Homo sapiens: one gene and its partner. The protein of the gene in region 1 binds, or shares a complex with, the protein of each later gene. Each region holds a gene or a part of one and is shown in the gene's direction. Other genes may lie near its edges.

Evidence for each region.
Region 2: the proteins of EPAS1 (region 1) and EGLN1 are in contact, whole or in part, in a crystal structure (PDB 7Q5X), measured with the Homo sapiens proteins. Residues at the interface, in NP_001421.2 of Homo sapiens: Asp525, Leu526, Glu527, Thr528, Leu529, Ala530, Pro531, Tyr532, Ile533, Pro534, Met535, Asp536, Gly537, Glu538, Asp539, Phe540, Gln541, Leu542; in NP_071334.1 of Homo sapiens: Gln239, Leu240, Val241, Ser242, Lys244, Ile251, Arg252, Trp258, Asp277, Ile280, Arg281, Ile292, Asn293, Gly294, Arg295, Thr296, Lys297, Tyr310 (codon at 7,090), Val311 (codon at 7,093), Arg312 (codon at 7,096), His313 (codon at 7,099), Val314 (codon at 7,102), Asp315 (codon at 7,105), Pro317 (codon at 7,111), Asn318 (codon at 7,114), Asp320 (codon at 7,120), Arg322 (codon at 7,126), Arg370 (codon at 10,551), Trp389, Tyr390.

What each region holds. Positions count from the first base shown.
Region 1 is NC_000002.12:46,290,129-46,306,043, forward strand, and holds the start of EPAS1 (endothelial PAS domain-containing protein 1), read left to right. Parts: upstream 1-7,278; 5' UTR 7,279-7,783; coding exon 7,784-7,809; intron 7,810-15,915.
Region 2 is NC_000001.11:231,365,535-231,381,152, reverse strand, and holds part of EGLN1 (egl nine homolog 1), read left to right. Parts: intron 1-7,053; coding exon 7,054-7,173; intron 7,174-10,454; coding exon 10,455-10,591; intron 10,592-11,309; exon of another isoform or gene 11,310-11,599; intron 11,600-13,516; coding exon 13,517-13,584; exon of another isoform or gene 13,585-13,586; intron 13,587-14,677; coding exon 14,678-14,742; 3' UTR 14,743-15,618. UniProt on the Homo sapiens protein: Cellular oxygen sensor that catalyzes, under normoxic conditions, the post-translational formation of 4-hydroxyproline in hypoxia-inducible factor (HIF) alpha proteins.

The sequences.
Region 1 (15,915 bases):
GAGGTTGCAGTGAGTGGAGATTGCGCCACTGCACTCCAGCCTGGGCGACAAAGTGAAACTCTGTCTCAGGCCAAGACCCATTGCCTAAAGGTTTTGAAATGTCTGTTTCTCGTCTTCCTTCCACTGGGGTAGATCATTGAGCACACAGGGGCCAGATGGCCTTGAAACCCCAGGATCCATACACCACAGACTACAACCCTCTGAGGAGACCAAGAGAAAATCCTCGGAGTTTAAAATCTGAAGTATTTACAGTCACATTCTCAGCATTGCATCCCTGGTTTTCTTCAAAGGGCAAAGACTGAGGTATGCACTGAAGAGAAATGAAAAGTTTCCAGTGAGGTTTGTGTAGAACCCTATTTCTGAGCTTGGCACCAGGTAGGTACATGAGCATGTACATGTGTGTATGTGCAGGTGCGTCTGGGGATACTTCAGTGTGTGCTTTAGACATCACCCCTGTATCACTGTTCTATAACACCATGACTTTGGAAGGACCCACATTCAGTCCCCAGAATGATGCAGATATAGAAGGCCCTTACACAGTCACTGGGAATCATAAAGGGGCAAAGATTTTCCTCATTCTTCGTATATTATTTTTTGAGTGTCCATTTTATGCCAGGTTCCCTGCTAGGCATTGAGGACGCCAAGACATTTTCCCATTTAGCACCTCTACCCCATCCCCTTACTAGCCTCACCTTGGCCCCTGTAGAGTAGGAGGGAGAATAAAAAACAAGGAGTAGGAGATGCCTCTCTGTCTGCCTTCCTTCCTTCCTTCCTTCTCTCCTTCCCTTGATCCTTCCCTTCCTTCCTCCCTCCTTCTTTTTCTCCCTCCTTCCATCCTCCTTCCATCCTTTGTTTCTAGCATGGATGAAGTATCTCTTTGACCTTCCCTGGCCATGGCTGGTGCTTCCCTCTTTGGTACCTTTGTCACCTTGTATGGAACCCTCTTGGTCCCCTGGGACTGCAGTCTTCAAGAGTCCAAAGGGGCCTCTCCTTCAGCTGGTCACTTATGGTCCTCCTTCAGCCTCTATCTCCAGTTGGGCCTCCACCTTTTTCTGCCAAGGTCTTTTTGAAGAAGCCCATGTGGACAGAGTCCCCTTAAAAATTGCTGGGCACAGTGGCTACTTGGGAGGCTGAAGCAGGAGAAGTTCTTGAGCCCAGGAGTTCAAGGCTACAATGTGCCATGATCACACCTGTGAATAGCCACTGCACTCCAGCCTGGGCAACATAGCAAGACCCTCATCTCTAAATTTTTTTTTCCTTTAATTCTAGGTGGTTATTCTTTTTTTTTTTTTTTTTTTGAGGTGGAGTCTCTGTTGCCCAGGCTGGAGTGCAGTGGTGTGATCTCGGCTCACTGCAACCTCTGCCTCCCAGGTTCAAGTGATTCTCCTGCTTCAGCCTCCTGAGTAGCTGGGATTACAGGCACCCACCACCATGTCTGGCTGATTTTTGTATTTTTAGTAGAAACAGGGTTTCACCATGTTGGCCAGGCTGGTCTCGAACTCCTGACCTCAAGTTATCTGCCTGCCTCAGCCTCCCAAAGTGCTGGGATTACAGATGTGAGCCACTGTGCCTGGCCCTAGGTGGTTATTCTTCTTGCAGTTTCCACATCTGGTACCTGCATGCCATATGCCATACTGGACCCTGTGATCCCTGCCCAGATCTCCCCTTAGGAATGAAGGACACATTCCCCCAGATGCTGTTGCTCAAGGTCACAGCCTTTCCCCAAGGTCAGCCAGGAACAATGACCAATCTATGGCAGGGGTAGAAAGGCCCCTTGACTCTGCCTTGGGACAACTCTGAAGGGCCATCCCAGCTTCAGATCCGGGCAGTGGGGGTCCACTTCTCTCTGATCCTGCTTCTTCTCCTTTCCTCCTCTGGGTGCTATCCCAAGAGCACTCTAATAAACCTTCCTCATGCTAATCTTCCCCCTCAGAGTCATCTTCCAGGAAACTCAATCTGCCACACACTCCCTTGCCATGATATAGGCAAGAGGGAGTGACTTCCAAATGGAAATGTCCTCTACAATAGGCCTCTTCAGCCAGCTGCTCACCAGTGGGCAGTCTCCTGTGTTCCACAAGCTCCAGGGACAGATATCAAGCTCTGTGTGTGGTCTCAGGTAAGCCCTAGTCACTGGACTTAAGAGACAGGAGCAAGGCATGTCCTCTCTCCATGGTATGGGGAGGAAAACTGATCACAATGTTGACAACTCAATCCTAGAACTCCAACTTTGAGTCCTCTTCTGTATCAATCCATGCACTTTCCTTGAGGTGGACAGTGGCTGGAGAAGGTACACAAAATCATTTTCAAGGAGCTCTTGTGTTCCGCATTTTGGAAGTGGGAGTAGCTGGCATTGATTGTCTTGGGAACTCAGTTGAAACTGAAGTAGGAAGAGTCCCATTTTAACACTTTGCTACAGGCCAAAGCAATGCCACAGAATAGGGAGGGTGTCTCTGACTACACCCCAACCGGCCCTGTCCTCTATGCCTGTCTTAGCCAGGTGCCAGAGAAAATCGGATGCTTGGGGCCCAATGTCATCATTTTTAGTGATATAGCACCTTCATTTCTACTCATGCCTTTTTCTAAGGTGGGGCTGGCATGTCCTTCTTATTGGCCATTCCTCCCACATGGGTGTTATTTTATCACCTCAGAGGTCACACTCATCAGCCCGGCAGCTGGGCCAGTCCAGGCTAGGCTTCTCTGGGTCCTAGCAGTGGACATGGCTGGGACTCCAGATTTTCTGGTTGTTCACCACCACCAAATTCTTACCACTCCTGTTGTTTAGGCTATAAGATTTTGCTCTCGATTTTCAAATTTAAAAATGTTAAGAGCATATAAATTGTACATATTTACCAAATTAAAAATTGGGGGAGGAAAAGGAATTACCATGTCAAAAGATACCTGATTTTGGAAGCCTTAAAACGTGTGTATTCAAAATCTGGGAAATGCAGTATGTACCCAACTGAACTATGTCCTCTTGGAGGGAAGGAAACCACCAGTGCCCTCTTCCACAGACTGATGTCTTATGCTTTCCCGGAGGCAGCAGAGCACATTGGCCCTGGACCAGTGACTCTTTCACCATTGGTTGAATGACAGTTACAAATGCACAACTCCCTTCAGAGGCAAAACTTCATTCCTAAGCCTAGCAATGGAAGATGTTAGTCTCCAAGTCATCAGTATACAGGTGTGAGGAATGGAGAAGCTGGGGTTCTTTAAAACTGCATCCTTCTTACCAGCAAGCACTTAGGAATTCAAGGAGGAAAAAAAGTTTGACTCTTGCCTCAAAAAAAAAAAAAAAAAAAAAAAGAAATCACAGAACTCTTTTTGAAAGATGACAAATTCTAGATTTGTGGGGTCAAAAGTCACAACATTTAAAAGAAGATACAGCACATGTCTGTGTGGAATATCTCACGACATTGGCCTAAAGCCAAACACAGGGGGCATAGTTTTCTGGACCTGGAGTTCAGTGACAGGGAGTGTGAGTATAGATTTTGTGAAGTCACAAAAGGGGCTGGTTTCGTTTGGATGGAGTAACATGCAAGTGTGAGGGAAGGAGTGACTCAGGCAAGGCTTTTCATAGAGAAAGAGTCTCTGCCAGCTTGTCCTCTCTCCCATCTCTGCTCCTTACCTCCCCTGCTCTCTCCACCCCGAAACCAACTAAATAGCCAGACAAGGGTCAGATGGGTATTACGTGAGATAAGGCATGTGGCAGGACAGAGGCCAGTGTACTTGCATGACTCTTAAAGGCCTCTTTTGCCTCACCCTGGTCCCAACTCCAATATGTGACAATGCATTGGAAGTTGTAAGGTACTAATGAGATAGCCCATCCTTCCAAGAGCTGTTCCTGTTAGATCCCATCCATTCCAACCTAATTTCCAACTGCATCCTGGAACATACTGTTACTTCGATGGGAGTACTGAGGCCATCTTTCTTCCACCAGCCCACTGCATCCCAGGTGCCTGCTCTCTGCCAGGTTTGTAAGTTCACACTTTATCTCTATCCCATCCTCCTGAGGGCACACCCTACAAAGAAAAGAGGAAGCAAGAGAATCAGATTTGTCCCTTGTCAAAACAAATAGGTGTTTCACTGGTGCCACAGCTTTTGTTCCCAAACCATCCAATACAGGGTTGGGGGGCAGGTAGGGAGATTTGCTGGGAGGTGGGCAGTTTGCTCCTATTTTAAGCAGCTTGGGAGCTTTGCCTACCGGTGTCCTCTGCTGCCCTCTGTGGCCACAACATCAGTGTCTCTAAAGACACCCCTCTGAATCCGGGGACCCAGCTCCCCATCCCCCACTCACTGCCCCAGCATCACCTTTCAAAGTTTTTCTCCTCTAGTTCTCCACAGGCTCTAAAAAGTAAAATTGGATGCACCCTAGCCACAGCCTGCATCTGGTTTACACTCTCAGCTCCTTCCTGCAAAGGTTATTGAGCTGAGTCCTGGAAGAAATCTCAGGCCACCCGGCTCTGCTCTAAGCAAGGCTGGGTGCAACCCTTTTGAGAGTTATTATAATGAGTTTTTGGTGTATCTCAGACACTGCCAAAATCCCGGACTTGGCAAGGTGCGGTGGCTTATGCGTATAATCCCAGCACTCTGGGAAGCCCAGGTGGGTGGATCACATGAGGCCAGGAGTTCCAGACCAGCCTGGCCAACATGGCAAAACTCCATCTCTACTAAAAATACAAAAATTAGCCGGGCATGGTGGTGCACATCTGTAGTCCTAGCTACTTGGGAGGCTGAGGCAGGGGAATAGCTTGAACCCGGGACGTGGAGGTTGCAGTGCGCCAAGATCGTGCCACTCCGCTCCAACCTGCGCAACAGAGTGAGATTGTCTAAAGAAAAAAAAAAAATCCCAGACTCAATGCCAGCTGTTTGTGTTAGCCTGGGGATCCTTCACTTATAGGGTGCAGTCTGGCCAAGAGGAAGGAGCTATATAACATGGTTGATGGAATTTCTAACATTTAAGCTCAGGGGTACATGTGCAGGATGTGCAGGTTTGTTACATAGGTAAATGTGTACCATGGTGGTCCACTGCACAGATCATCCCATCACCTAGGTATTAAGCCCAGCATCCGTTAGCTATTGTTCCTGATGCTCTCCCTCCTCCCACCCCTCACCCTCTGACACGCCCCAGTCTGTGCTGTTCCTCCCATGTGTCCATGTCTTCTTAGGTTGATGTGGTCTTGAGTGACCCCTCCTTGCCTTTCCTCTTTAAAAACAAGATCTAAAAGGCTATGTTCTCTATGGGTTGGAGGTGTTGCCTCGATCTGTCAAGCACAGTCCAGGACTCAGAGGCTGTTGTGGTGAACTACTGTAGGCACCTGGAAGCCACCAAGGTGCCCTTTTCCCGCACTCTAGTCCCAAGTGAGGGAAATAAGCCTATGGTTAAGGGAGAACTATCTACCAATTTGAACTCATTAAAATACATAAATGTGTCCACTAGAAATGGCTGGCTGGAGAAGCCCAGTACCAAATCACCCCGTTCCTGAAACCCACCAGCCCCATGAAATAGTTCGCTAGAGAGAGATTTGCAATCTTTGAATTCGTTGACTATCAACCTGTATAGGTGCTCCGTGCCCCGAGATCTGAGAAAATGACAAAATACGTCTACTTCCCGGCCGGGCACAGTGACTCACGCCTGTAATCCCAATACTTTGAGAGGCCAAGTTGGGCAGATCACTTGAGGTCAGGAGTTTGAGACCAGCCTGGCCAACATGGTAAAACTCCCGTCTCTACTAAAAATACAAAAATTAGCTGAGGGTGGTGGTGGGCGCCTTTAATTCCAGTTACTCCGGAGGCTGAGCCACAAGAATCGCGGGAAGCGGAGGTTGCAGTGAGTCGAGATGGGGCCACAGCACTCCAGCCTGGGCGACAGAGTGGGACTCAGTCTCAAAAAAAAAAAAAAAGTATTTCCCAATTCTTCGTCAGTTTTTGCCCTCTCCCCACTTCGCCTTCTCCAGGCTCCTGAAAAGTATCTCCCCCAACCCTTTCTGTGTACACGGGGAAAACACGTGTTCATTTTTATTATGGCGCTGAAACCTACCCTTCTCTTCAAATCGCTTCTGTAGATCGTTCTAGTATAAAATGTGGCAAGAGGCTAAAGGGAGAGATATAGACCAGTTCTTTGGCCCTCGCTTTCCAACTTCAAGTTACACCTGTGAAACTCATGGGTCCTTCCACAGCCTTCAAAAACTAAGGGCGTCCCCTGTCCTCTCCCCAGATGTCCCTTCCCCATCGCCGGTAGCGAGTGGGAGACAGCTCAGCGCGGGGCAGGGGAGCACTGGGCCCGGAGATGGAAGGCAGCGTCAAAAGCGCCGCTGGAAAATCCCTGAGCGCTAACCGTTGCCTGTGTGAGCCCTTAAATCTACAAATTTCCAACACCTGTAGCCTTTGGGTTTCCCAGGACTTCCATCGACCCTGGCGGCAGAGAGGGCAGGCCTGAGATGCAGTGACTTGAGGGCACATGGCCAACTCTTGTCACTCCAAGATCACACTGGGGAACCAGACTGACTTCTCCAATTCTGAACTCGCCCCGGCCTCGGGCGGCTCAAAGGGCCTCCTCTGCCGCATCCCCGCCAAAACCAAACCGCCTGGCACAAGCCGGTAAGCAACCACCCTGCTGGGAGAGGGAAGGAAGAGTAGGCGCAGCCCTAGATCAATTTCCTTGCACTGCTTCTCCCAGACGGTCAAGTCAGCTGCGTCCCACCGAAAAGGGCGCATCGCCCACGCCCGAAACGCAGCCGCTGGGGGCCGAGAAATTATCCCCACCTGGCCCGAGGGCCAGGGACGCAGGAGCGCAGCAGCGTGGAGGGGCTCCGCGCTGGCCCGGCGCTGCCCGCGGTCCTGCCCTCGTTCCAAGGGCACGGCGCCGGTACGAGGACACCGACGCTGTGGCGCAACTGCCGTCCCCCGCAGCAATCCCGGAGCCCGGCTCCCGGCCGCCCCTCGGCCCTGCGCAGGCTGCCTCTCCCCGACGCGGAGTCCCACCCCGCTACCCGCCGCCCAGACGACCTCATAAACAAGTCCTCGAAGTGCGGAGGCAGGAGGCGGGGCGCAGCGCGGGGGCAGGAGGCGGGCCAGGGTCAGGGCAGAGGCTGCGGCCGCGCGTCCCCATTGGCCGGGACGCAGTGAGCCGCCCGGAGCTCGGCGCGGGCGGGGCCTGCCGGCGCGTGCCCGCCCACACACCCGCGCCGGTGCCCGCCCCCCGCCCTCCGCGCCCGCCCCGTGCCCGCCCCAAGCCGGCCGACGGAGTTTTTAAAGTGGGCTGCCGGCCGCGGGAGCTTTACACTCGCGAGCGGACCGCCACACGGGTCCGGTGCCCGCTGCGCTTCCGCCCCAGCGCTCCTGAGGCGGCCGTACAATCCTCGGCAGTGTCCTGAGACTGTATGGTCAGCTCAGCCCGGCCTCCGACTCCTTCCGACTCCCAGCATTCGAGCCACTTTTTTTTTTCTTTGAAAACTCAGAAAAGTGACTCCTTTTCCAGGGAAAAAGGAACTTGGGTTCCCTTCTCTCCGTCCTCTTTTCGGGTCTGACAGCCTCCACCCACTCCTTCCCCGGACCCCGCCTCCGCGCGCAGGTTCCTCCCAGTCACCTTTCTCCACCCCCGCCCCCGCACCTAGCCCGCCGCGCGCCACCTTCCACCTGACTGCGCGGGGCGCTCGGGACCTGCGCGCACCTCGGACCTTCACCACCCGCCCGGGCCGCGGGGAGCGGACGAGGGCCACAGCCCCCCACCCGCCAGGGAGCCCAGGTGCTCGGCGTCTGAACGTCTCAAAGGGCCACAGCGACAATGACAGCTGACAAGGAGAAGAAAAGGTAAGCGGGCGTCCGGGCCGATCAGGGGGCCGGTCCGAGGCCAGGGCCGGGCTGCGCGGGGCAGGCGCGACCGAGAGTGGTTGGGAGAAGAGTGCTGAGAGGTCTTCGGAGCTCGAGGCTCGGTTTGGAGGGCTGTGAGGGGGAGAGCATGTGCCCGGTTTGGGGGCGCGGATCAGCAGCTTTGCAGTGGAGACTTCTGCGGCTCGGAGGAGTCGGGGATTTGCGCGCACGGCGAGGCCAGGAGGCCGAGGGAGATGGCCTGGAGGTCGGAGGTGCTTCCGCGGTGCCTTTGAAAATCTCCCAGCCGCCCCGCAGCAGATTACCGTGGCCACCGGCGCTTGGAAATGTTTGTGGGTGCATGTCCTCGACTTTCTCTGGTCTCTCATTTTGGGGCAGCATCCACGTCTCTATTTTTCTCTGGATTCGCGGAGTCCTTCCAAATGCGCTCCTGTGCCCGCGCCGCGGCCCAAGTGGGCAAAGGGGGGCGGGAGGCGGAGAGCGGCTCAGGGACACGATCCTACCGAGGAGCCAGGACCCTTCAGAGCGCCCCGCTGCCGGGCTCCAGACCCCACCGAAGGTTGGAGAACCCACTTCCTCGTGCCGCACCTTGACTCTGGGGAGAGTAGGTAGTGAGTGACCTGGATTGCCCTGCGGGGGCAGATGGTTCGGTGTGTAGGAAGCGGACGGCAACACTGGATGTCCCTGGCAGGTCCGGGTGTCTGTCTCCGAAGAGGACAGAGAAGGGCAGCCACGATCTGCCCGCCTGCCCTCGCGAGCCTCTCGGCACTGGGTGAGAGGCAACTCTGGCCATTTCTTGCTGCCCTCTCGCCCTCTCCCGGCCGCTCCCAGTCCAGCCGGGCCCGGCGCTACCCGAGCGAGGGTTCGAGCCCTCTGCGCGGCCGCGCAGAAGCAGGCAGGGCCTCAACTTCTGCAAATGTGTGCGGCTCGCCGCCTGTCCCCTTTCTCCTCCTGTCTCCACCCGTGCGGCCCCAGTGGCCTGGAGCTTCCAGCCCCGCGCTTGGCCGCGGCTTGGCGAGGCTATGCTGCGGGAAGCTGGAATCCAACGCGCGGCCGGCTGAACCGCCTGAGCCGCGGGAAACCAGCGGCGGAGCGGCGGTATAGAGGTGCGAGGATGAGGAGGACCGACTCGCTAAGGGAGGGAGGTGACTGGCCGGGAGGGCTCACTGCCGAGGTTGATTTGCTCTTGTTCCAACTTCCACTACGGGACTGGAGCCAGAAACCGTGTATCCTCCGGTCGAAAGCAGCGGTTCCCACCTCGGGGCACCGATAAGGATTTGATAAACGGGAGCGAATCGCGCCTGTCCTGGCTCGGCGCCCGGGCCCTTCACTGCGGGATCGCTAGGGGAGGGGATTGGGCCCTGCTCCCCTTTCCTGGCCGTAGTCCCCCCTTTCTCGTCACCGTCGCGCCCTCAGACCCAAGACAAGTGAGGGAGCCCTGAGACTGCAGCCGGCACATTCCCAGGGCCCTCGGAGCAGTCCTGGGGTTCCATGTCTTTTGAAGGCAGCAGAGCAAGGAAAAGACTCTTAAGATTCCAGTGCGTTTTGTAAAAACCAATCATAATGCTAATAATGACTGAACCATCGAAAAGCAAAGTTATAGACAGCGCCTGCAGACGCTTTCGGGTCCGGAGCCGGGGAGGGAACTTGTGTATTTTACAACTGCGATGCCTATCGGGAATGTGGCAATCGCCGAGGTGGGGCCTGACAGTAATCTTGACAAATGTGTGAAGTGTCAGCTCCTCCTGCGCTCCTTAGCGCCGGGTTTTGTGCAGTTTTGTACCGTATATACCGAGAAACTTGGGAGCAGGGGAAAAATGATTTCGACACACCCAGCTACAGTACCTGGTTCGTTAGCGGACTGTTGGAAAGAGAGAAGAAGCGGGAATGGGAGCGGGAAGAACGTTGCGTAATTAGACTCCCAATTATTGGCGAGAGCGGCCGCTTTAAGAACCACTGTGGGGACTGCCTGCGAAACGCCTTGGAGGCCGCTGTGTGAGCTGCGGCTCCGGGCTGGTGGCCACGCGAGGGTGTCCGCCCTCTTCGACCTGCCTGGATTTTTGTGCTGCAGAATGGCAGGGCAAACAGCGTGTCCTTCACCATCTAGAGCCCCTTAAGGGGTTGTCCAATTCCTATTGGGCTAATCAGTTTGAGACTCATTTACTTTTCGTGCCTGGGTCTGTTTGCTGGCTGCAGGCTTCTTTAGGGACCAAGATGTAATTAAAATATGTGAACCAATACATTGAAAGTTGGTGTTGTCATGTAAGTGACTGCTGTAGCTTTTCTGAGTGCCTCACAAGGGCGATGTGACAGTGAGGGGGCTCTCTGCTGATGATTCTGCCCACTAGTTCTTACATTTTGTGTTTCTTTGGTTTAGCAGAGCAGTTTCTTCCCCCAAATGCAATATGGGCAGAACATTTGGAATATTCGTTCTAACAATGGCCCGTCAAGAAGTGGGCAGATGATTTTGTCCCAGAATGTTCACACGTCGATAAATATGTTAATGTTTAATAATAAAGAGTTTGCTTTCTAAATGTTAGTTGGCTGGGTGTCCTTGATAGTACCAGTTTTGGTGGTAGTGGGCATTTGCGGTGACATCACAGATGTCAGAAACTGAAGCCTGGTGGGTGGGGGTACTGCACTTTCACTCACCTTTTTGTGCACGCATCTATCAGGAATGCCTGAGTCCTTTCACTGGGAAAAAAATGTGGAAATTCTGGGATTCACGGGGTTTGAGGAGTGGTTCAGGCAAATGTAAATGAGATCCTTGGATAATCAGGGATCAAAGTCCAGTCCCAAAGCCAGACCTAGGTCCAGACACCTTCCCAGAGTGCTTATACAGTAGTGCTCAGTACAGGGCTAGCGTGGAAGGGGAATTGGAGACACCTGGATCTCCAATCTCCCCCTCCTTCTGACAGCTGGACTTAGTTGTTCCTCTTCTAAAATCAAATCAAACTCCATCATTATTCCAACTCTGAAGGGAAAAAATATTGCTGGACAGTTTCTCTCAATTTAAACATATATTTTAAATAAATATTCCCTCCACACTTGATATGTTTCCATTGTATTACCAGCAGCGCAGGATGATACAGAATTGATGTAACACATTGTTGGCTTGAGTATTTAAGTTTTAATTCATACAGTTTTCATGAAGTTCAAAAGAATGCCATCATTTCAAGTTTTTTTCAGTGGTGCTTATAGGGAGCCTAGAATTATTTTATAAGAGACCATGGAAATCATCTAGTCAGACTTTTCTCTTTCTGGATAAGGAAACTGATGCCGAGAGAGGTTAAAAGACTTCTCCGGTCACAAGGAAAATTAGTGCTGATAAGAGTCAGGGCTGGTCGCGGTGGCTCATGCCTGTAATCCCAGCACTTTGGGAGGCTGAGGCTGCGGATCACCTGAGGTCAGGAGTTCAAGACCAGCCTGGTCAACATGGTGAAACCCCGTCTCTATTAAAAACACAAAAAAATTAGCCGGGCGTGGTGGTGGGTGCCTGTAATCCCAGCTATTCTGGAGGCTGAGGCAGGAGAATTGCTTGAACCCGGGAGGTAGAGGCTGCAGTGAGCGGAGATAGCGCTGCTGCACTCCAGCCTGGGCAAGAGTGAAATTCCGTCTCAAAGAAAAAAAAAAAAAAAAAAGTCAGAACCCTGGTTTATTACTTTCAATTAAGTATGTATTTTCCTATTGTTCACAGGAGAGTACCCCAGCCCTGAAATATCTCTAGATAGTGAGGATGATTTCCGAAGGAGTGCCTTCCCCATCACAACTCTCAAACCGCTGAACCTTATAGAAAGGAGATTTGCTTTTCTGGATAATTATCAACACCTTTAGGCTGCAGTAGAAGTGATGATTCTGTTTGCTTTTTGAAAAAAAAAAAAAAAGGAAGCAGAGTTGAATTGATGCTGTTCCCAGTGTCTGTAAACTTTGAGAAGTATGAATTCATTGTTTTAGTTAGAAAAAAATCTACTTATATAGGTAGACCTCATTAAACAAAACCAATGCAAGGACCGCTCCTCAGTGGAGCAGATTGCTTTTTGAGGTAGAGAACATTCAAGCAGCTGCTAGATTGATTTTTGTACTGGGTTAGTTGGCATTTTCACTAGGAGTGAAAACTGTGAGACTAAACAGTTTAATTTACTTAGAATGTCCCTCTTTCTCTCTGTGTGTGTGTGTGTGTGTGTGTGTGTGTGTGCCCGTGCGTCGGGGGGGGGGGCAGTGGTGATTCTCAACTTTCTAGGAATTTATTAAGTAAAGTGTTTAGAAATGGAAGGAAACAATTAGATAATTCTCAGTGCTCCAGGATTTTAGGCTCCTACATTTGAAAATACTTGCTGTCATTAATTGTCTTGAGATTTAGGCTTTTCCACTTTTCAGGAAATCTAGTAGTTTTTTGGGGGTTTTGTTTTGTTTTCCTTGGTTCTGCCCTATGCCAACCTGCTAGTTTCCCTTTTTATTTTAGCCTGATGAATCTTCCCTTTTGCTTTCAGTACTAACCATTGCTGGTAGTTCTTAACAGGTCTAGCTTTTACCAATATTGTCAAGTTAGCAATATTAGCTCCTGGGGCCCTAGTACTCTGTACTTCCACCCCTCTCCCCACCAGTACCATGCTGCCTGTTCACATGATGGACACCAGCTCTGATATTCACCCTAAGATATAATCCATAAGATGACAAACTTGTATTCAACACCGACTCCTACTCTGGCTAAAATGCTGAAGAGAATACTAAGAAATAGGGGATATGGTCCTGGTCATCAAGTTGCTTAGTCTGATTAGGAAAAAAAAAAAAAAAAAAAAAAAAGAGATACAAGGAAGCTTAAGTAAAAATATAAGGGGTTGGGCGTGGTAACTCATGCCTGTAATCCCAGCACTTTGAGAGGCCGAGGCAGGCAGATCACGAGGTCAGGAGTTTGAGACCAGCCTGGCCAATATGGTGAAACCCCATCTCTACTAAAAATACAAAAAATTAGCCAGGCGTGGTGGCGTATGCCTGTAGTCCCAGCTACTCAAGAGGCTGAGGCAGGAGAATCGCTTGAACCCGGGAGGCGGAGGTTGCAGTGAGCCGAGATCGTGCCACTGCACTCCAGCGTGGGTGACAGAGCGAGACAACGTCAAAGAAAGAAAGAAAAGAAAGAAAATATAAAGAGCTGACAGCCTACATGCTTTTCTGTAGAAATCTAATATTTTGAAGCAAAAGATAAGCTCTGAGTAGCATTTCAGGTAATAACCGCCCCCCTCCCCAACACACACATAAGCACACACAATTATTTAAGAGTATTATGTGTATTTAGAGGTGGAGAAATTTGTTCCTAGTGTCCCCGGAACCACACAGAGTAGGTGCTGACCACCAGCTTAAAGACTGGCTCAGAAGGAAGGTCAAATGGGAGAAGGCAGTCTTTGAGGGCTAACGAGAGGAAAGAAAACACACAAGGCTCCCTATGGTGTATCCCTTATCATGTACTTCGACACCATACACAGGAAGGCCCCTGAAATGGAATGTTTGCTGTTCTTTATACACTTGCTTTGGGTGGGGACATGGAAAGGGAGCTGGTGGGGCTCCACAGACAACAGGGGTAGTAATTTCTGTTCCCCTGAGAATATCAGTGGAGACAGCTATGACTCCAGGAAGGCCAAGAAGGGAGAGGGAGCTTCTTAACCAGGCTTTGTGAATGGGTTTCAGAGGCTGGCGTGTAAATCTCTGAAAATGTGTGCAAGACATTATGTATAGAAGCAACTTGTTCTAAAGGAAGTCTGTTCAGCTCTCCATAGCCTTTCAAAGGTTCTAGGATATGGAAAAGGCAAGCCCTTGCTCTTGGATGTCTGATTTGGTGACTGTCTTATGTTTCAGAGTCTTCCTGTTCAGATCCCAGACAGTTCTTGTGTTTTACTGCCATTGCCTCTCCCTGTGGTGAAGAATGGGGAGGAGGAAGGTGTGTGTATTTAGTAAAGGTTCTGAGGTGCCGCTTAATCTTCCCTGTCCCTGGCTGGCGTGTCCGTCCACCTACATGTCTGCCCTCAGTCTTGGAAGGACGGGAAGCCAAGTGCCCTGCACAGGGTAAATACTGGTATGATTCATTTTATTAATGCTTCTGAAAAATGACTGTGAAAACAAATTTATCCTCAAATGTTCCATCATCCTCAAACAGTTATTTGGATGACCTTCATGTTCTAGGAATGTATGTGGTCTTAATAGAAATTATATTTTGCATCAGGACAACACAAAAAACTGACAGTCTTATTTGTGCCAGTGCCGTCCTCAGAACTTTACATGGATTAACTTTTTAATCCTGTGAGATAAGCCCTGTTATTATCCCCACTTCATTGATGGGAAAGCTGAAGTCTAGAAGGGCTAACTGCCCAAGGTCGTATAGGTAGCATGGGCAGAGCTGCATTCAACCTGAGTAAAGGAGGTCCCCAGAGTCTATACTCTCAATGGGTGTTCCATACGCCCTTCCCTTACTGAAGATATCTATAAAGTATTTAATACTGCTTCTGACTCACAATAAGTGCTCTATAAATGACAACTGCCTTTGTTGTTTTCCTTGTAATTATAATTACTTTTCTTTTTTGTGATTTATCACTTGCATCAAACCTCACAAGCAGATAGGGATTGAAGATCTGAAAGGCCAACATGGAACTCCTTGAATTTCTTATTTTTCATGGGTTTTCCTAGACCCTGACAAGAGGTGGTTCTCTCCTGCCCCAAGAAATTCAAAGCTTTCCACATCCCACCCTTCGCTGGTGGCAAGACTTCAATAATTACTTCAGCCTTCGGACTCCATTGTGCAGGAGAACCTGTTAGAAGCTCTTCCTCTGTGGCTTCTGAAGAACCATCAAGATGCACAGGACTTCCTGTGGCTCTTTTGATCTTTTGAAATTGCAAGCACAGGAAGGAAAGAATGGATAGGGGGATAAAGAATAGCTATGATTGTTGTGATAATAGCATGTTGCATTTCTATAGAGCCCTTTCGCTGATGAGCCCTGAGCCTTAACAGCCATCACACTGTTGGCCCCTGCACTGTGAACCTAGAGGGTACCTTGAGTTTTTCTAGTGCTGCCAAACAGAATTGCATTGACACATACCTTAATCAAGAGAGAAGCAAGCCGTGTTGGCAACTGTGCATCACAGTCGATGTGGTGGTCATCCATGGGATGCCCCTAATAGCATCTGTAATTTTCAAGTAGATGTTGGGTGTAATTTGGTGACCCTTGTCTGTTCCCACTGTTGGAAGCCCCATAACTGATCTGATGAAAGCATAAAGTGAAGAAGAGTGGCGAGACCCTTTGTGAGATACCTGGAGCTGAAGAGTCAGGTGTGGAATGGACAAGAATGTTATCCACTTCTAAGTGACCTTGTTTTTTCTAATTTCTTAAGAAATACCTGTTTGCTTGACTGCCTTAGGCTGTTTGCAGGGGCCACTTGTACGTCAGCAAAACTCTTACTAGATGACATCACTGCCAGAAGTTCCACATGTTTCCAGGAGGCACATTTCCCACTGCCCCCACTCCCCCGAACTTGGAAAGATTCCTCAGTTTTAAAGTTATAAGTAATTTCCATGCCAGATAATGATCCTGTGAACAGATCCTTTTCTCATGTGGAAAAATATTTCAGAAAGGGTGTCTTGTCAATGAGAAAAATGACCCCATTGAAACATATGTTTATTTGCCATGTACTCATCTGACGTTTTGTGAATTCTATAAAGCCATGGAAGTGGATTGTTAGAAGTGTCTCATACACCCCTAGTGACTTCTTGAACTATCCCCCCATCCCCAGCCATGGAACTCTCCTATTAAAAAAACTAAGAGATAAGTGGTAGCAATCTTAACAAATTAGTGATTTTATCTGGTTAGGCCGTGTAATCAAACACGTGGGCAGGAAAGTGGATCCATTATGTTGTACTCATGATTGTGGTGCTGAAGGTAACCCCCATTGCCCTGTAGGCTGCCCCCAGAAGCAGGGGGTACAGCCAATAGTATTCTTAGAAGTTAATCAATTCTGTAACGGGTTGAGTGTTTTGGTCTCATTTTTAGTCCGAGGTGCCCTGATGCTGGCCTGTGACTAAGGGGAGTCAGTGGCTTGTTATGA
Region 2 (15,618 bases), on another chromosome or scaffold:
GGAGGATCACTTGAGACCAGAAGTTCAAGACCAGCCTGAACAACGTAGTGAGAGCCCATCTCTAGAAAACATTAAAAAATTAGCCAGGTGTGGTAGCGTGTACCTGTACTCCCAGCTACTTGGGAGGATTGCTTGATCCCAGATGTTCAAAGTTGCAGTGAACCATGATCACGCCACTGCACTCCAGCCTGGGTGACAGAGTGAGACCCTGTCTCTAAAATAATAATAATAACTCAGTAGGGAAAAGATTAACCCAGTAGAAAAGTGGATAAAGGATATGAGCAAGCAGTTGAAGAATTAAATGGCCAATAAAATATGAAAAATGCTGACTTAAAAATATAAGATGTAATTAAAACATTAGTAAGATAAATGTTACCTATCAAATTGAGCTGTTTTCAAAGATTAAAACTTACTATGCTGGGTTGGCAAATGGTTAAAAAGATGTGTGCACTCATACAAAGCCAGTAGGAATATAAGCTCATGCAATAATTCTGGAGAACATTTCAGCAATCAGAAAGCTTTAAGACCTAATAATTTCACTTATAGTAATTTAATTTTAGGAAAATATCAAGGATTTACAAAGATTAAGCTCCAAAACTATTGTTGATCACAATATTATTATAATAGCATTTTTCTAATTTTTAAGGAAACTATATGCCCTTATATGTCTTTTTAAAATATATATATACCTATCATTTACACTTAGAAATGAATTAGTCAAAAAATTAGTCAGAAATCATTTATAATAAGTCAGCTTTTGACCACTGAGTTGTTTACTGTGATCAAGAAAGCAGCAAGGCTTAAGGAGTTCTTATTCTTTTTTTTTTTTTTTTTTTTGAGACGGAGTCTCGCTCTGTCGCCCAGGCTTGAGTGCAGTGGCGCGATCTCCGCTCACTGCAAGCTCCGCCTCCCGGGTTCACGCCATTCAAGGAGTTCTTATTCTAAATGACTTTATTTCATGACAATCTGTTCTCTGTTCTCTTCTCTCTGTACTCCCTTGGCAATCTGTGGCAGGCACACGGCTTCAGCTATCCCATGCGAAGATGGCTCCTAAATTTACATTTCCAGTCATGACTTTTTTTTGGAGTTCCACACAAGTTTCCAACTGCCCTTTGAACATCCCCACCTGGATGGCCTTCCAGCATGACCTGTTTTCTTCCGTATTTGAACTAGATTTTTGTAGACCCCCAAGGTAGTGATAGTGATGTGTATGTGTGCTTTGGAAGTGGGCAGGGAAGAGACTTAAAAAGATTTAACTGTAGAACTGAAAAATACCATGTGCAGTACAGCAGGTTCTTGAATAACATTATTCTGTTCAGTGTCGTTTTGTTATAATGTTGATGAGGGATAAAGAATCAATTCCTGGCCGAGGCCAATGTCTGTGTGGAGCATGCAAGTTCTCCCCATGTCTGCGAAGTTTTCTTCAGGTGCTCCAGTTTCCTCCCACATCCCAATGTGTGCATCTTTGGGATGTGGACTGACGTATCTGTTATCTTAGTGTGAGTGAATATGGGTGTGTGTGAGTGCACCTTGCAGTAGAATGGCGTCCTGCCCAAGGCTGGCTCCCATCTCGTGCTTTGAGCTCCCAGGATAGGCCCCAGCCACCTGCAACCCTAAAACTGGACTAATGGCATAAATAATTACCTTGTTTTTATTAATCTTTCTTAAATGTGTATATAGCTCACATTTATTTCAAGGTTTACCATTAGAAGTGTTTTGGTCTTTATTTAGAAGTTTGGCAATGTTTTATGACCACAAATATGCTGTAGAAACTTAAGTTGGTTTCATTATACATTGTTTCACATAAAGTTTCCAAGAACCTATCGAGGCTATTAGTGAGGACTTACTGTACATCTTGACATGGGAGAATTGGGCATTAGGCATGAGCATGTGCCACTGCAGCAGGTGGTGGGCCGCTTACGAGTCTGGATTACCAATTTCATCTGAACTCTTGGGTGGACTATATACATGCCTTACTGGAGCAAGGAATTGAAGAAGAATACAGAAGGAAGTTGTTTTTCTCTGCCTCAGTTCATATCCTGCCTCTGCCATTTAGAGTCTCTGACCTTCGGCAATTTTTTTCTTTTCACTCCAGTTTAGTTTTCTGGTCTCTAAAATGGGGGGAGAAATTGTGCCTACCTAAGGTTTGCTGTAAAGAATGACCGAGGTAATCCATGCCTGGCCTATAAGTGATTAGTAAATGTTAGCTGTCAGCCTCTACAAAAGGCATAGTGCTATGTCAAAGCATAGTGCTTTGATAATATAGTTTAATAGGATAAATTTTCAGATAGTAAACCTTTTCCCTTCATTCAGGGTAAAAATAATAGTTCTGTAACCCATCAAAGTTTAGTTCTCTAAGCTTTGTATCCCTGTTTTAAAATAATTCAGCTCAAAAAAGAAAAATAAGTTTCCTGGTTCAGCTTCATATTGAAGCCTTCTAATGCTAGAAATAAATGTCTCTAGATTCCTCAGAGGCATTGCGGACCTCTTCCTTCCTTTTATTCTCAGAGTGAAAAACAAATTTATGCTGTTTCCTATCTTAAGAACATTCTCAATCAGCCAGGCACGGTGTCTCACGCCTGTAGTCCTAGCACTTTGGGAGGCCGAGGCAGGCAGATTGCTTGAGCCCAGGAGGGGAAGACCAGCGTGGGCAACGTCGTGAGACCTTGTCTCTGAAAACGTAAAAAAGAACATCCTTAATCATATATATTTTCATATCAGAAAAGAAAAAAATAGTATTGTTTTGTTTTGTTTATGTATAAATAGGTTTTTCTCGATGGGAAATTGAAACATTTAAAGTTGGTGTCTCTATAAGGTGGCAAATTAGGAATTTACCTCAGAATTATATAGTGGTGGATTGCATTGTTTCTTTTTCAGGCTTTCTGGTTTATAGGGTTATGTTGGTATTTTTCGTGTTATTCTTTTTACAATTATAATCATGAACTGCTGCCTTTCCTGGGGCTGGTATTGGCAAGTTAATTGGGTTGGCAGATCCATGCAGGCCCTGTGGAGCACTCATCCCCTCTCCCTTCTTCCTTTCTCCTCATTTTTCAGTATTCCTGTCACCAGAGCAGAGCACAAGGGACCTAGGGAATGCCAGATAAGACTAAAGTGGTAATGGCCACTTTTAAATAATACATTTAGATGGTGATAATTGAGCTATACTGGGAATTATAGAACTTAACACAATTACATTAAATTTATTAAAACTTTTCTTCAAAACGTGAGATTTAAAACTTTTCTTTACTCTGCCTTTTATTTTTTCAAAGAATCCTCACTTGGAATTCAAATACTGTATAGGAAACAGCTAAGCACTGCCTCTAGTTTAAGGTTGGGGTTAAAACCTGCTTGTTTGGCCTCTTCTCATATCACTTCATTCCCAATTAGTCCCCTACCCCTAGATACCTCCCTAGGGCTCCAGGGCTCTAAGGAAAGAGTTTAGAAGTGAATAATACAAACAGATCCCCGGTTGGGGGATAATCCTGGTGCCCTCAGTTTTGTTCTATTCTGGGATGTCTGGCTCATTTTGACAGTTATCGATAAACTCCTCTCCTACCCGATGCTTGTAATTAAAACTGCTCTTTCACCTAGTGTTTCCATTTTCATGTACAGTGACTCCATTCATTTACTTACCTAGGCTGAAAACCCCGTAGTCATTCTTGACTCTTCTTACTCTCCACTCATTAGCAAATCATGTTGGTTTTCTGCCTTCAGAATACACCCCACTTTGCTACTCTGGGCTCAGCCTCTTTGGTTTCTTGCCCGGAAACTTTAATAGCTAACTTAGTCTTCTCTTTTCACTCTTTGCTTCCTGCAGTCTAGTACAGTGGTTAATTCCATGGGTTCTGGAACCAGATTCCCTGTCATGTGACTTTGCGAATACTAATTAGCCTTTCTAAACCTCAGTTTAGAGGAATGAGGATGAGAACAGTGATACTGTTTACCTCACATGGTTGTGTCAGACAACTTGTTATGCACAAATTACTTAGATAGGACATGGCAAACAGTAAATGTCCCATAAATGTTAGGTGGTAAGAGATATTGAGGTTGTTGTGGTTGTTTTTATTCATACAGACTTGAAACTGATATTCTCAAAACATTAGTCAGATACATTCTCTGTTGGCTTCCTGGCCCTTCTTAGCACAATATCCAAAGGCCTTCCTGTGGCTTACCAAGCCCTGCAGCTCTAGGTTACCTGGTTCCTCTCTGATCACATTGGCCCGTGCTCGCTGTGTTCCAGCCACACTGGCCTGCTGCTCTTTCCTGCCTTGTTCAGCCTTTGAGCACTCATTTTCCCTCTGCCACATTGCTCTCTCTTCAGAGATTTGCCCAACTTGCCGCTCCCTTCATTTAAGTCTAAACCCAAATGTCAACCACTGTTCAAGAATATCATGTCATCTTTCTCTATATACCTAATTTTTTTCATATCTTAAGAAAATACAACTTTTCACTACCTAACATTACATTATATATCTGTTTATTGGCTAATTATGCTGTTAGACCAGATTTCATAGTACAATAGTCCCCTCTTATCTGAGGGCAATACCTTCCGAGACCAAGTGGATGCCTGAAACTGTGGATAGTACCAAATCCTAATATACTATATTTTTTCCTGTACATACATACCTATAATAAAGCTTAATTTATAAAGTAAGAGATTAACAACAACAGTAAAATAGGACAATTATAACAGTATGCCAGCATCGCTACTCTTGCACTTTGGAGCTGTTATTAAATAAAATAAGGTTTCCTTGAACACAAGTACCACGACGATTGCTCTGATGACCTAGAAGGCTACTAAATGACTAATGGGTGGATAGCATCTACAGTGTGGATATGCTGGACAAAGGGATGATTCATCCCAGGCAAAACGGGGCAGGACTGCAAGGTATTTCAGTGCACTACTCAGAATGGTGTGCAATTTATAAACTGTTTATTTCTGGAATTTTCTATTAAATTTTTTGGACTAAGTTGACCAAAGGTAACTGAAATCACAGAAAGCAAAACTTCTTATAAGGAGGGACTATGTAAATGAGTGCAAGGGACCTTTTCTCTTTGGTTCATCGTTTTAGCCCCAGTGCCTTTCATATACATAGTCGATGTTCAAGAGGTATTTGTTAAATGGATATATGGGATGTGATGGGGTGAGTGACTGACAAATATTTTCCCCTTCCTTCTTTACACAAGAGATGCTGAAGTTACCAGATAGTTGGAAAGGCCCAAATTAACTTTTTTGAGATGTAGAGTTCAGGTTTCCCCCTTCTTTCCCATGAATAACAATATATTGTGTAATTCATCATAATTACTTCAGTTAACCACAAATGGAGTAATTGCATTGTTAAATTAGTACCCTCTTACAGTTACTATTCAAGGTAAACTTCTTTCCTGGGTAGCTAGTGACAAGAAAATCATTTGGGCTCATCATTTATTGAGCACTTAAACCCACTAAGCCCATGCCACACTCCTGGTTGTTACCAACCTCCAGTGCTGAAAGAAGGAACTTGTTAAGTCTGTCTGGAATCAGGAAAAACAGAGACATATATAATGTTCTCCAAAAATTCTGCTGCTTATAAAGAGCAGTGAATTCAGAGTGTCTAGGGAAACAGGATTTTTAAATAAGGATTTAGGTTTAAGATGCCTCTTAGTTTCTTAGGGATGGGAAGTGAGTTTTAAAAATTAGCATTTTTCTTTTAATATGATAGTAGAACAATTCGGTTACTGTTTGATAACTTTATACTAATTCATTGACTTTATTATATGAAGAAATAAAGGACTTCAAGAATAGCTCATAACAAACCGGGTGGCGTGGTGGCTCAAGCCTGTAATTCCAGCACTTTGGGAGGCTGAGGCAGGAGGATCACTTGAGGTCAGGAGTTTAAGACCAGCTTGGCCAACATGGTGAAACCCTGTATCTACTAAAAATACAAAAATTAGCCGGGCCTGGCAGCATGCACCTGTAATCCCAGCTACTCGGGAGGCCGAGGCAGGAGAATCGCTTGAACCTGGAAGGTGGAGGCAGTGAGCTGAGATCGTGCCACTGCACTCTAGCCTGGTCAACAGAGCAAGACTCTGTAAAAAAACAAACAAAAACAAGAATAGCTCATAACCTTGAACGTCTTTGTTTGTTTTCTTCATAATTCCTGAGAATTTTTTAAAAAATACCATTACCAATTTCAGTTAATTATCATGTACACCTAGAATATGGAAGTTATTTTGTGCTTTTTATTTTGGGCCTCTTTTCTACCTTTAAGCTTAACATCCAACAGTCTTCTGAACCATATCTTGTTATAATCTGAGCAAATAATTTTCTTTCTGATTGAAAGAGGGTAAACATAAGCTAATTTGTTTAGTCCTTTTTTTAAAAAAAAATCACTGACACTAAATGAGTTAATGTTTGGAGTTTAGTTGACCTCCTAAATTATCCCTATTACAACATAGTAAGACACCATATCTACAAAAAATACAAAAATTAACCAGCCTGGTGACACGTGCTTATAGTCCTAGCTACTTAGGAGGCTGAGGTGGGAGAATCACCTGAGCCCAGGAGGTTGAGGCCGCAGTGAGCCATGATTGCATCACTGCACTCGAACCTGAGCAACAGAGCCAGACCCTGTCTCAAAAAAAAAAAAAATTGGTACCATTCAGAGACAGTGTCAGATGGGGTGTTGACTGGGTTGGTTCACCTATCAGATGGTAAAGTAGGTGTTCTGAGGTGAGCTCAAGGAAGATTGAAATCTCCCATGGAGCAGGACAAAAACGTACTTGATCTTGATTATCTGTATTTATAAAGATTGTCAAAGTAGGACCAAGAAATTTTTCTGATCTTTGGAGTTATCACTGTGAAGCAGAATTCACCAGTCCTTGTTCATCAACCTATCTTGTGTTCCCTATAAATGTTAATGTAGAATAGCCTTATCTTATCTACAAAATATTATTTTTATTAGAAGAATCTAAGTGTAAATCAGTAGCCAAAAATCAGAGATCTGATTTATTAGCTGTTCTCTCTTTTTATTTATACATGGACTTTAATAATCATTATTATCATTATTACAGGCCATGGTTGCTTGTTATCCGGGCAATGGAACGGGTTATGTACGTCATGTTGATAATCCAAATGGAGATGGAAGATGTGTGACATGTATATATTATCTTAATAAAGACTGGGATGCCAAGGTATGCAACTTAATTGAGCATTTATTTTTTTCTTACAGGTGTCTTTTTCTCAAAAGCATTAAGTTTCATACTTCTGATAAGACTGTCACAGACACAGTTAAAAATTTTCCTCTTAAATTTGTTTCAGTCTCAGGTATTAGGAGTGGATTTTTGTAAAATGAAACAAATACTACTCTATGTTATACAACATGATACCTGTAGTTAACAACGTAGTGTTGTGCACTTAAAAATTTAAGAGGGTAGACTCCATGTTCAGTGTTCTAAACACACACACATACACACACACACACACACACACACACGCACACACGAGGTTAGGGGAAGGGAAACGGAACTTTGAGAGGTGATGGATATGTTTATTACCTTGGTTGTGGTGTGTCATGAGGGTGTGCGTATATATCCAAACTCATCAAATTGTAAATGTTAAAGATATGCATTTTTGTATATCAGTTATACCTCAAAACCATATAAAAAAGTACTGATATATCTTAAAAAGTGGATTCATTTATTTTCAGATGTTAGAGCACTTATCTAAAATCTAACTTTTTTAGAAAGGTGACCTTTATTAAAATATTTTCCTTTTAATAGTTTTTAGAAAAACATTTCTGAGAACAGTTGTTTTATAATGGCTTTTGGGGGAGATTATCTATGGATAATTGTTAAGGATTATTTGCTATGTTATTCTTGGCATTTTTGTAAAAATATTATATGGCATTGAGTTGTTTAATTGAATATTGGAGGCAGGATTCAGTCTTTCCCTGATTATTAAAAAACTGGAAGTTTATCAGTACTGACAAGCCCTGTAAAACCAATTAGAATGTACAATATATTTAATCTCTCTTGTTTTAAATATATATTTCCTTAATATTAGCCTGAGTCTCATTAAATTTAAATGATTTTTAAAAAATATGTCATATATTACTACACTAGAGACTGTACAGACTAATTTTTTGGTTGATTTTTTAAAATCTTAAGTATAACATTCAAATAGAAAAGTGGCTTGTATAGTTCAGTGGATTTTCACAAAGTGAACATACCTGTGTAGCCAGGGTGCCTTTTTTTGTTGTTTTTAAGTCAAATAACCTTTAAAAAACCTCTTTCTCTGCATCCCCCAAAACACACAAATGGAAACTGCCTGAGTCTTAAATGTGCAAAAACCTAATCCTGCCCTAAAAAGTGTTTTAAGTTTAGAATATGCTCACAGTGCTTCACTAATCTTTCTAAAACACACTGATTTAAAGAGTTTTCTCTGCCCTAGTCCAGGTTCAAAATGGAGCTGACCTTTCTGCTGAGTATATATTGAGGCATGTCAACAAGCATGGTTTTTCTGTTACAGCTTTCAAAGTTTGAAGTAGAGAAATAAATTTTGTAATTGAATTTGAGCCCAAGGCACAAAACAGATGGGTGTAACTTTAGTTAAAATTTAAAAATTGACTTTTTTTCAGATTTTGTGAATAGCTAGAAAGCTAGAACTGTGTTTCATCAGCTTCTAACTTCTAGATTTTGTTAGGCTTTTTCTAGGCTGATCTTATAATTTCTATAATACTTAGTCAGGGTCATTAATGTGTAGGTTTTAAATTAGGACATAGGCAGAGAAACGTCCCTAGTGTTTTTGTGTGTAGAATAGAAATTTTCCATGCTAGATTGCACTGAATATGTAGTGTGTCAGTTGTTCTGGATGCTAGGGATGTAGCAGAAACGGAATTAGCCCTGGCAGAGCTTAGGATCTATTGGAGGATACAGATCAGAAAGATTGACAGTTACAGATAGTTATGCAAAGTGTCAAGACAGATTGCTATGGAGCACACAGGAGGGCCACCTAATTCAGAGGAGGAAGAGTGGAAGTGTCAAGTAGCCATTTCACTTAAAACATTTTCAGCAGGTCACCTGTGGTACTCCCAATGACTTGAGTCAAAGGGAAGGGAGCAGGAAAAAAGGAAAGAAGACATGTTCTCAGTTTGGAGGTTCTTTAGATGTTTGCATAGTAGCCTGGGGAATCACTCTGAACAACACTGGAACCTGAGGAAGGTTGGCAAGGGTATCAAAGTAGCTAGAATTTAACTTACCTGACAGTGAGCCTGATAAACCTTTTCTTTAACTATAGATTCTAGGTTTAGGCTCAAACGCCATGTTGTCCTGACCAGGTGTTAGAGTTTCTTTAAATTTTAAGAGTCTACCTGCTTAGGAGTGTAGTTATTCAAGAGTAAGGAGCTACTTGGTTGGTTGGGTTTTGCCTATCCCCAGATCGTAAACCCCGCAAGGACAAAGTCTGTCTGCATTATTCCCTACTCTGCACCCAGAGCCCACCACAGTTCCCAGTGCGATTTGATGCCTAGTTGGTGTTTAGGTAAATAATAATCCTTTATGGGTAGAATCAAGTTTCACAAGCAGGTAGTCATCTGTGCATCAGGCCCAGTCTGGAAAGGGAGAGCCACAGGTTCTAATGAACTATATGCTGATGGTGATGGTGACGACGACAATAATGATGGTCATAATAAATGATGACACTTTCTACTGATATACTGAATTATTTAAGTAAGAGGTATTTGTGACTATCCTATTGTTTATTGAATTTTAAAGTATGGTAAACTATTTGACATAATTTATTTCTAATAATAATTTTGTCAAAATTTCTTGAAATCTATCTATTTGAAGGGTGGGTTAAGCAAATCATTAACATACAAAAATAAACGTTTAGTAGTTTTAAAAGCTTTCAAGCATCATTTTAAGACTTTTAAATTCAGATAACATTCTTGTGTTTCATCAGATATTTATAAAAATCCCTAAAATGGCTGGGGACAGTGGCTCACACCTGTAATACCAGCACTTTGGGAGGCCGAGGTGGGCAGATCACCTGAGGTCAGGAGTTCGAGTCCAGCCTGGCCAACATGGTGAAAACCCATCTCTACTAAAAATGCAAAAATTAGCTGGACATGGTGGCGCATGCCTGTAATCCCAGCTACTCGCGATGCTGAGACAGGAGAATTGCTTGAACCTAGGAGGCGGAGGTTGCAGTGAGCTGAGATTGTGCCACTGCACTCCAGCCTGGGTGACAGCGAGACTCCATCTCAATAAATAAATAAATATCCCTAAAATAAGAACTAAATTTGTCCTTGCATCAGTGCATATACTTTTAAAATTGCAGCTCATCTTCATACTTTATTGAGACGTATTTGTGAATAATCCAATTAAGACATTGAAATTGTCTCTTTTTTTCCCCCTAAATTTAATCTTGTAGCATTTTTGGTTACTCCTGCTTACATATTTGGCTCTTTTCCTAGGTAAGTGGAGGTATACTTCGAATTTTTCCAGAAGGCAAAGCCCAGTTTGCTGACATTGAACCCAAATTTGATAGACTGCTGTTTTTCTGGTCTGACCGTCGCAACCCTCATGAAGTACAACCAGCATATGCTACAAGGTAGTATTCCTTTTCAGAAAAAATTGGTTTAGAGTATGGTAGGACAGGAGGGAATCTGTAGAGTAAACGTGAAAGCTTTCTAATGAGTATTTTCCTGCCAGGTACTTTTCACAGTCATTTTAATTTGAATAATTGTATAAGATTTATGTTGCACAGTCATCTGAATTCAAATAATTATATAAGACTCATTAACAGTTAGTACTAAATGTGTCTTTCTTTGCACAGCCACTCTGAAGAAAGGGAAGCACAGGCCTTCCCATCTTTCTAGCACTCTCTCCGTGCTTTGTGCATCTCTTAACTACTATCCATGCTTTGATTTTTGTAAGAGTATTTTACTTGGGAGAGAGAAAGATCAAGAAGGAAAAGGGTTTTTTAAAAGGTGGTGAGGGACAACATAGGAAAATGGATACAGAGTAGAAAAATCAGAGGTAACCAGAGAGTAGAAGTGAAGAGAAAAACAGAAGAAAGAAAAGTAGAGAACAGGTTACCATGTGTGGGAGTTAATGTTAGAAAAATGATCCTATTAGCTTTACAAATAATGAGCATCTGTTTCATTATACTTTTTCTACAAGGTATTTGCAACCTATTATATTTAGTGCTTTATTTCAAATGCTTTTTTAAAAACCATTTATCCTGACTCAATTAAAATGCTCTGGCTGTGAAAACAAGATATTGTAGACATTATCATGAAAGTAAATATTTGTAGAAAAATAGCACATTAAAAAAAAATACTTATTTTTTATTATGGAAAGGTCTTGGAACATTCTGATAGTGAGCTTCCGGCATTCATTTGCTGTATCTGGCTTAGGAGATGCTAGGGTGGCAAGAAGAGGCACAGGCTTAGATGCGCTGGGTGGAGAGTTGGCTTTAGTAATGATGGTTGACTCTAACGACTTGATTATCAGCTGTGCCTTTTTTCTTCCTGCCTTCTGAGGTGTGTTGCCTGCATCCTAATTCACGTACTGAGTAGCAAGCTAAGCAGGTTGTAGCTGGAGATTGTAAGAAATCCTGAATGGAAACCAAAGAAAGACTGTCACATCACATGATGTGCCCTTTTCAATCCCATGTCTCTTCCCAGTGGCATCCCAGTGCTGTCTCTGCCCCCTGCTGCTTCTGTAAAGATTTTCTGACACAGTAACTGCCTCATAGACCTTCCTTTTTATGAAATCCTGAGTTTGGTTTGGTTACGTCCTTTTTAGATGAATAAATAACAGATACTTGGGAGTTTATAGTAAATAAATGCCAGATGGCATGGAGGCTAAGTGCTACAGGAGTTGAGGAACGAAGGTGGTGCTACATTGGAGAGACGGGCAAGTGCGCTTTGAAGGGAGAGGCTCAGCTGGCCTAGGTGAGGAGAGGCAAGGGGTGCAGTCGTGTTAGTAAAGTTCTGGGGGAAAAGGCGTAGTTGTTCAAGTTAAGGCATGGAAAATCATGCGACGAAAAGGATTCTTGAAGTAGAATCCTATTCTGATCTTATCTAGAATGGGTGATAAGGCTGGAAAGTTAGAATGACATAAGGTAAGTTGTTGATCCAGATATTAGAATTCTGATTGCTAAGTGACTAAAAGTTTAGGGCATGGGCAAAAGATACATAAAATTATGTATCTGAGCCCTTTCCTATTTCCAAGGCCACCCAAAAGTAGAAGAAGCCACATGGTAAGAAAGGTAGTGGAACTCTGGAAAGAGCAGAGTCTGGTCTGGAAGTCAGGAGACCTCCTTAGACCTCAGCTCTGTGATTCACCAGTGGTGGGGTCTGTAAACGTCAGGCTCCCAGTTGTCCAAACTCCCAGACTCTTTACTTCAAAATACATTATGTGATTTTTCATTCTGTCATATTACTGGCTGTATGTCTGATAAATGTTGCCTTTTCCCCTGTGTCCACTGGCCACAATCCACAATATATTTGAACTAATTGCTATATTCTGCCCAGGAACTGGTGATTTGTAGCGTACTTTCACTTCCTATAGCGTTTATACATTTTCCCCATTATTTGTATCAGAAAGTATGTCTTTTGTAGTATTTAATAAACTAGAGATGCCTCACTTATTGGTGGAATGAAATATTCTAAGTCAGATTTTCAGAAAAATGAAGTTTAGACAAAGTTTAAACACAAAACACAGTATAATTGCTTTGATTAAAATCCTTAAAAATTCTTAGCATAATTTAACTGTCAAGGTTATAATTGTAAACATCCATCATTACTCTTTGCTATAATGTAGTGATGTCCCCAGAGACTGTTGAAACTGTTAGCCTGCAATGCCCTGAGTCCTTTTATCTGTTTCTTTTCTGTTCTTTTAGTACTTGTGCTATTGATAATGTGCTTTTTCTGTAACAGCCATTCTTTTACCCTTTTATTGTCTCTCTTTTTTTTTAGAGGGAGGCTCACTCTGTCACCTAGGCTGGAGTGCAGTGGCATGATCTCGGCTCACTGCAACCTCCGCCTCCCCGGGTTCAAGCGATTCTCCTGCCTCTCAGCCTCCTGAGTAGCTAGGGCTACAGGCATGTGCCACCATGCACGGCTAATTTTTTTTTTCTTTTTTTTAGTAGAGATGGGGTTTCACCCTATTGGCCAGGTTGGTCTCGAAGTCCTGACTTCATGATCCACCCACTTCGGCCTCCCGAAGTGCTGGGATTACAGGCGTGAGCCACTGTGCCCGGCCTATTGTCTCTTTCTGATCTGCAGTTCCCTTGCAAAAAATAAGTAGTTGAAATAAGTATTAAGAAAGTCACAAAAACTCATCAACTTCAGACATCAATTTTAGTCTCCCCTGGTTACTGTATAAATAAGCTGTTAAATTTATCCTTTGATATCATTCCAGTTTAGGCATAATTTTGGCATTACAAGTTTTAATATACCATTGCAGCAAAATACCACTTTTTCCCCGCAGTGTGATCATTCTTATCCTATTCTAAATTTTCTTTTAGGTACGCAATAACTGTTTGGTATTTTGATGCAGATGAGAGAGCACGAGCTAAAGTAAAATATCTAACAGGTAAACGTCATTTGGGGCCAGGATATATTGGTACAGAAATACCCTGCAATCAGGTGATGCTTTCAGGAAACTCAAGCATAGTCTTTGTTAACACCATGAATACTTACTTTTTGTTTTTTATCAGATTTCTTATTTGCCTCATTTTTTAAGAAGACATAAGTCATCTTCACTGTTATCTTTAACCAAAAAAATTGTCAAAGGATGTGGAAAATTTGAGGCAAAGAAGTCTGAGTAAATTATTCACATACAAACTGAGTTTTCTGTGATTATCCTTTTCAGTCAAAGGCCACTTAACTCTAGGTAACGGCCATATGGTTTCCTCTCATTCACTCCTTAAATTAATACCCTTTCCTTTTCAAATGGATGTGCTCTAAACAGTACTCTAGGTCTTCCATGTTAAATGTAGACATGAAGAAAATTAATACAAAGAATTATGAATTCAAATGCCAAAATCAGTAAATGACACAGACATGTAGATTCCATATCTGCTAATGGTGTACATAGGTCAGCACTCTTGTACTGAACCTGAAGATCCTTTAATTATGCCAGTTCCCCTTCTCTTCCACTTATGGACTGCCTCTCCAAGAGCAGGGGGTCTGTTTCCCATCTGATGGACCACTTACCTTCTTTTCTTTAACTCTACTTTCTATCTCCAAAAATCCACTGAGTATTCACATTACTGATTAGCTGTGTTTTCCAGAGCCATTGCTAATCGCACGTCGACCTTACATAAAAATGGAATATTCATGCATTTTCTATGTATTTTTAAAGCCATTATTTGTGGCACAAGCTCAGTGTGCTTTCAGAGACACTGAACACTCTGTTGAAGAAACTCAAATGGCTTTTAAAATAAAAAGACAAAATCATTATCTCTGTGTAGAGGATGGTTTTATCCTTGAAGGTTTACTATTTGAAACCTCATCACAATAGAATGCTGAGGGAAGTTTTTGGAAGTACAAGCGTGATAGTTCTCAGATGATGTTTGCAAAGTTGAAATATTGTCCATACTCTTAGGAATTCAGTGGAATGCAGTAGCAGAAGCTCTCTGGTGCTTAGTGAATGAATGAAAATTTTTTTTTTTTTTACCTTGCAGGTGAAAAAGGTGTGAGGGTTGAACTCAATAAACCTTCAGATTCGGTCGGTAAAGACGTCTTCTAGAGCCTTTGATCCAGCAATACCCCACTTCACCTACAATATTGTTAACTATTTGTTAACTTGTGAATACGAATAAATGGGATAAAGAAAAATAGACAACCAGTTCGCATTTTAATAAGGAAACAGAAACAACTTTTTGTGTTGCATCAAACAGAAGATTTTGACTGCTGTGACTTTGTACTGCATGATCAACTTCAAATCTGTGATTGCTTACAGGAGGAAGATAAGCTACTAATTGAAAATGGTTTTTACATCTGGATATGAAATAAGTGCCCTGTGTAGAATTTTTTTCATTCTTATATTTTGCCAGATCTGTTATCTAGCTGAGTTCATTTCATCTCTCCCTTTTTTATATCAAGTTTGAATTTGGGATAATTTTTCTATATTAGGTACAATTTATCTAAACTGAATTGAGAAAAAATTACAGTATTATTCCTCAAAATAACATCAATCTATTTTTGTAAACCTGTTCATACTATTAAATTTTGCCCTAAAAGACCTCTTAATAATGATTGTTGCCAGTGACTGATGATTAATTTTATTTTACTTAAAATAAGAAAAGGAGCACTTTAATTACAACTGAAAAATCAGATTGTTTTGTAGTCCTTCCTTACACTAATTTGAACTGTTAAAGATTGCTGCTTTTTTTTTGACATTGTCAATAACGAAACCTAATTGTAAAACAGTCACCATTTACTACCAATAACTTTTAGTTAATGTTTTACAAGGAAAAAGACACAAGAAGAGTTTAAATTTTTTTGTTTTGTTTTGTTTTTTTGAGACAGTCTTGCTCTGTTACCCAGGCTGGAGGGGAGTGGTGCATTCTTGGCTCACTGCAACCTCCGCCTCCCAGGTTCAAGCAATCCTCCCACCTCAGCC